Linked DNA regions of Homo sapiens. The protein of the gene in region 2 purifies or fractionates together with the protein of the main gene of each other region. This does not show direct contact. Each region holds a gene or a part of one and is shown on either strand. Other genes may lie near its edges.

Region 1 (3,814 bases), on a different chromosome or scaffold from region 2:
TGCAGGGACCGGCTCACGGAGAGGAACCGGGGTCAGGGTGCAGGGGTCCAGTGGCAGCTTCATGGTGGGCACAGGGATCACCCTCCCTGCACATCCCTGAGCAAGACACAGCCGGGGGTGAGGCCGTGGGGGCTCCTGGGGATGGGACTGGTGTCACTGGCTGGCAGAGCTCATGGACGTTCAAGGCCAGCTCTTCCCTGAGGCCTGGACAGTTCTAAGTCCTTTCCTCCTTTACGTCATTCTCAACTATTTATGTAGATGAGGCAATAAATTAAGAATCATTCAGTTAAGGAGAAATGTCTACTTCAGGGACAAAGCAGCAGCCTCCTCAGCTACACAAGGATGAGCGAGCAGCCACCCTTCTGGATCTCCTGGCGAGGAGATGCGAGGTGAGGCCCCGCCCAGAGGGCTAGACCTGCAAGCCCCACCAGAGGCTGTGAGGACCTGAGGAGGACCAAAGGGACCACAGACCAAGCCATGAGCTCACAGGGACGCAAGATCCCACCTGAATTCCGGCAGCAAAACCACGGTGCCAGTGAGTGCCACGAGGCAAAGGCTCAGAGCAAGGCGAGAGGACAGGAGCCGCTGGCGGGTGAGGCGGGGCCTTCAATAGACAGGCTCAGGGCCACGGGGAGGCTGAGCAGGTTTCGGGCCTGCGTGCGAGAGCCTGCTCTTCAAGTCATGGGGAAATCCTTTCTGAAGGAAGAACCTAAGTACTGCCGGGCGGGAGGAAGGGGAGAGAGGCGCCATCGGAACAGAAACCTGTCCCATCTTCCGGACACCTGCGCCGCCCAGGTCCTGCAGAAGTCCCACTGACGCAAAGCGTTCGACATTGAACCCACAAAGAAAGAAACCAAAGACTCAGCCCGGGCAAGAAGGCGACACCAGGCGGAGGGCCTGACCCATGCTAGGGCCCCAACTGGGCATGAGGGCCTGAAACGTACCCAGAAAAGTGGGCCAAGAGAGGGCCCAGGGCAGGGCAGGCAAAGAGGATGTGCCATCCATAGAATCGACTGCCCCCATTGGACTCCCAGGGCCTGGACATCCGGCTTTGCACAGTCCCTGCGGCCTCAGGGACCACGTTCAGTAGAGGGCGGCCAACACCCGAAGGCCATGAAACAGAGGCACACAGGAGCCTCAGCTGAAGTTAACACACATCTAAGAAATAAACTCCCAGCTGGGCGCGGTGGCTCACACCTGTAATCCCAGCACTTTGGGAGGCTGAGACAGGCGGATCACAAGGTCAGGAGTTTGAGACCAGCCTGGCCAATATGGTGAAACTCATCTATACCAAATTACAAAAATTAGCCAGGCGTCGTGGCAGGCGCCTTAGTCCCAGCTACTCTGGAGGCTGAGGCAGGAGAATTGCTTGAAGCCAGGAGGCGGAGGCTGCACTGAGCTGAGATCATGCCACTGCACTCTGGCCTCGGTGACAGGAGCAAGACTCTGTCTCAAAAAAAAAAAAAAAAAAAAAACTCCCAAGGATGGGCCAAGAAAATTGTCCAGAGGTGAGATGTGGCAGCCACGGGGTGGGGTGCTGGGGGTGGGTGCAGTGGGCAGGCCCCTCCCCTGCCCTGGCTTCCACATGGACCGCGGTGAGGAAGGTAGCTCCGCTCACCCACTCTGCGTCCTCCCACTCGCCCCCGGAGGCCTTCTGGACTTTGGCGTAAACAGGAGGAGCAGGCCCATCAGACCCTTGAGTGAGATTCCCATGGGTTGAGCACGTGTGGCCAATCCCGAGAGGCCACCGGCCAGCATGAGCCAATGTCCTGGCCCTCCCTGCCCTGTTGGTGTCACTCCCGTCCCACAGTGACGTCTGGAACCCTCCCCCGGTGTGTGGCTGCATGGCCTCCTGAGTCTGGGGATGGGAGAATAAGGCTTGTGCTGGAGGCCTTGGGCTGTGACACATACCTGTGGTCCCAGCTACTCGGGAGGCCGAGGCAGGAGGATGCCTTGAATCCAGGAGGGACCCAGAGAGATCTGGAATATTGTCTCATGCAACAGAAAGTGTCATCAACACAGAATCACGTTAAAATTCTGTGGGGGACTAACCATCAGAGAAACAAACTAAGCTTTCTGTCCACACAGAGCAACAAAGAAACCCTGCCTCTACAAAAAATAAAAAATTACCAGCCTGGGGCCGGGCACGGTGGCTCACGCCTGTAATCCCAGAACTTTGCGAGGCCGAGGCAGGTGGATCACAAGATCAGGAAATCGAGACCATCCTGGCTACCACAGGGAAACCCTGTCTCTACTAAAAACACAAAAAATTAGCCAGGCGTGGTGGCAGGCGCCTGTAGTCCCGGCTACTCAGGAGGCTGAGGCGGGAGAATGGCGTGAACCCGGAGGCGGAGCTTGCAGTGAGCAAGATCGCACCACCGCACTCCAGCCTGGGGGACAGAGCGAGACTCTGTCTCAAAAAAAAAAAAGAAAGAAAAAGAAAAAAAAAGGCTGCAGCCAGGCATGGTGGCTCACACCTATAATCCCACCACTTTGGGAGGCCGAGGCGGATGGCTTATCTGAGGTCAGGAGTTCGAGACCAGCCTGACCAATATGGCAAAACCCTGACTCTACTAAAGTACAAAAATTATGGCTGGGCGCAGTGGCTCACGCCTGTAATCCCAGCACTTTGGGAGGCCGAGGCGGGTGGATCACAAGGTCAGGAGATCGAGACCATCCTGGCTAACATGGTGAAACCCCATCTTTACTAAAAATATAAAAAATTAGCCGGGCATGGTGGCGGGTGCCTGTAATCCCACTGCTCAGGAGGCTGGGGCAGGAGAATAGCTTGAACCCAGGAGGTGGAGGTTGCAGTGAGCCGAGATTGCGCCTCTATACTCCAGCCTGGGTGACAAGAGCGAGACTCTGTCTCAAAAAAAAAAAAAAAAGATGGCAAAACCCCGTCTTCTCTACTAAAAATACAAAAATTAGCCAGGCATGGTGGTGCACACCTGTGATTCCAGCCTCCTCCGGAGGCAGAGGCACAAGAATCACTTGAACCTGGGAGGGGAGATTGCCATGAGCCGAGATCACATCACTACACTCCAGCCTGAGACAGAGCGAGAGTGTCTCAAAAAAAAAAAAAAAAAAGTATATATATATATATGTATATAAATCATGGCATCCAAGACAAGTCCACATGCCACCCAACCAGCAGACAACCCCCGCCATCCTCCACGCCAGCCCGGCTGGGGGTAGCTGGTGCCTCAGAGGGGCCACCCTTCAGGGTTCTTGGCAACGTGTTATTCTGAATGTCTGCTCTTTTCTTTCGAGTTAAGGCACATTTGTTCAATTTTAATTCAGGCAATTTTCAGCAGACATGAGTTTAACCCTAACCATGACTTTCCTGGCTAAGCCTAATGCTTTTGACCCTCCAGCAATTCCCAGACACCAGCGGACACCACAGGCCCTTTGCCAGCACTCAGAGAATCAGTGCCTGGGCCCTTGCCTCTCGCCAGACCCCACGGGGCCTTGAGCCCCGGGCCCCAGGCTGCTGGCCCCCCTCAAGTGCCTGCCAGGGATGGTCCCGGGCCCAGGGAGTCAGGACGAGGCAGTGATCTCGCCTGGCAGAGCCTCAACACTGTTCTGTTGTGGGAGGAAGATGGAGGGAGGGCGGAGGTTTAGCAAAGCACCACACCAGGGAGGACAAGCCTGCCGGAGCCAGGGACCATGGACTGGTGCCGGCCGGAAGGCCTGGTGGTTCATCAGCAGGAAGGCTGCACCCACCACTCACTCCACTGAACCATCACCCACCACACGCCCCTCCCTCCCTGCTGGGCCTGGGAGGTGCACAGACCCTGGGGCATCTCGTGGT
Region 2 (2,636 bases):
TCCTAGCTCAGCACTGACTGGTGCCAGGCCTGGTCCCACCCATCACTTGAGCTAATTTTTCTGATCATCTGACCCATGAGTAGCTATTAGCTTCCCCTAAACGCTGGGAGGGGCAGCCTGAGGCTCAAAGACACGCAGTGACTTGCTCAAGGGCACGCAGCTACCAGAAAAGAAGTTTGAACCCAGGTCTGCTGAACTCCCAAGCCAGTGTTCTTAAAAGACGGTCCATAGTTGGGGCAGCACAGTGGGGACTGCGATGAAGGCAGTTACCCTGTCCCGCTGGATGCTCTCGGCTGGGGTGTGCTGGGACTCGCAGAGGAATTTCCCGTCCCAGAGATGGGAAGATTTGGCGGAGATGATTTCCCCCTCTCAAAGCCCCTCAACCTCTGGCTGGGGCTTGGGAACAAGGTCACCGAGCCTTGCTGTTCAGCCTTCCTTGGCAGCTGGCCTCCCTCCGTGTGCACCCACACACACACGCCTTCACACACGTGCACACGTGGGGCCAGAAGGGATAGGGTGAGGGGAACCAGAGACAGGGAGGATTCCTCAGAGACTTTTTATTGACTCTTCTCTGAACACTGTCGCCGGAGCAGCAGTGGGCGTCCCTTCCTGGGCCTTCGTTGCGGGTCAGGAGGGTGTCCGCTTGGGCTCGGGGCTCTGCTGGGCCTCGGCGTTGTCCTTGTGGCCCTCCTCCTGCCGCTCAGGCTCCAGCAGCAGCAGCTTGCCCTGCACCGGCAGCTCTTCTTTCTCCTCCTCTTCCCCCTCCTCCTCCTCTTCCTCCTCTTCCTCGCCCGCTGATGACAAGGAGAAGTTATCCTGACTCACACAGGCCATGAGCTTTTTCATGGAGGATTCGTGGCCCCGGCCATGGCCCGTGCTGTGGCCTGGGCTGTGGCCTGGGCTCTGGCCTGTGTTGAGCTTGGCACAGCGGGAACCCATGGTCTACGTTGCCTGTCTCTCTGGGCAAGGAGGTGAGGCGGTGGGTGAAGGGGCTGCGAGTGGGGGCAGGATGCTGACATCACAAAGGGAGCCCATCCCCACTTGGGAACCTGGGTCTGAGCCAACAGTTAACTCACACCTCAGCCACTGGCAGCTCCCAGCCCCCACAGGGGAGGTCTGCAAGGCTGAGCACTGGGGCCAGTTCGGATGCCACACCATAGTCCTCATTTGCCCTGGAGAAAGTTTCCCTTGTAGCTGGGATGGGAGTTAGGGATTGAATTTCTAGAAGCAGGAGGGGCACACACAGACTCCTCCCCACATCCCAGAAATCGCCAGCCAGAGAGAGCTGTCTCTGTTGAGTTTCTTGACTGTTAACCCTTGGAAATAAATCATCAAGCTGTGTGCTTAAAATGTATGCACTCTGTAAGCTCATAAAACTCAGGAACCCTTGGAAGTCTTCCTTCGGGGGCCTGAAAGTGTGAAATCTTCTTGAAAGGCAATGGCTCCTAAGCATTGTTTGTTTGTCCAAGGCATGGGAACAGGCCAGAAACCAAGCTGGGATGAACAAGGGGTTGCTTTGTCCCTGACTGATGCAAGATGGACACCACCAACCAGAGGCCACTCTACCCAGGTCAGGGTGGAGTGACATCCTCTTAAGTGTTTTGGGGCCACAGAGAAGACATCATGGAGCTGCCCCTTGGCAAGGTTCCACATCTGTGCAGCACAATTTCAGCATGGGGGGAGGGGGTTTAGGACTTTGTCTTTTATACATTGAAATGAGTCGTTTGTACACTGCAATGGTATTTTTTAAATATAAATTTTTTGAGGCCAGGCGTGGTGGCTCACACCTGTAATCCCAGCACTTTGGGAGGCGAGGCAGGCAGATCATCTGAGGTCAGAAGTTCGAGACCAGCCTGGCCAACATCGTGAAACCATGTCTTTACTAAAAATACCAAAAAAAAAAAAAAAAAAAAATTTGTTTAGCTCCTTCAGCTACTCAGGAGGTTAGGGAGGAGAATCAGTTGAACATAGGAGGTGCAGGTTGCAGTGAGCCAAGATCGCACCACTGCACACCGCCCCAGTGACAAGAGCGAAACTCCGTCTGTTTTTTTTTTTGTTGTTGTTGTTTTGTTTTCAGAAACTCGTTGCTTCCTAAAGATTGGTCATTTCTGAGCACCAGAAATCCATTTGCCAACATATGGATTGGATCTTGCCAGTCTTATCCCCCCAGTCCTCAGTGGCTATGGTTGGCTAAGGTTGGCACTCTCCGAAGTGCCCCCTTCCTGATCCTGGAATCTATGATGTAAGGATTGTGAGATGGGGAGGTTATCTTGGGTTGTCCAGAAAGTCCCTCAGTGCAATCACAAGGGTCCTTGATTTCAGACAGGAGGGAGGAGTGATGCAGCCACAGGCCGAGGAGAGCAGGCAACAAGGATCGGATTCTGCCTGGGTCTCCAGAGGCTTCAGCCAGCACAGGCCTCACACAGCGCAGCCCATTACTCTGCATTCATCTACTCCTTGCCTTTTGCCGTCTCTGTGCTGACCAAGTTGTTGCTGGAGCATGCCAGACCTGTTTCCCACCTCGAAGCTGTGGCCTGCACTGAGCAGTGCCCCCACCTCTGCCCCCACCGTTTACACTTCCAACCACCCAACACTCAAGATGGGTTGTGTTTTTAAACTGTGGCACACAGTAGGCA

Evidence for each region.
Region 1: the proteins of PRM3 (region 2) and SSU72 purify together in Homo sapiens (affinity purification with mass spectrometry; one large-scale study listed by BioGRID and IntAct). This does not show direct contact.

The regions. Positions count from the first base shown.
Region 1 is NC_000001.11:1,547,102-1,550,915, forward strand, and holds part of SSU72 (RNA polymerase II subunit A C-terminal domain phosphatase SSU72), read right to left. Parts: intron 1-3,814. UniProt on the Homo sapiens protein: Protein phosphatase that catalyzes the dephosphorylation of the C-terminal domain of RNA polymerase II. Plays a role in RNA processing and termination. Plays a role in pre-mRNA polyadenylation via its interaction with SYMPK.
Region 2 is NC_000016.10:11,272,657-11,275,292, forward strand, and holds PRM3 (protamine-3), read right to left. Parts: upstream 974-2,636; 5' UTR 940-973; coding exon 628-939; 3' UTR 543-627; downstream 1-542. UniProt on the Homo sapiens protein: Protamines substitute for histones in the chromatin of sperm during the haploid phase of spermatogenesis. They compact sperm DNA into a highly condensed, stable and inactive complex.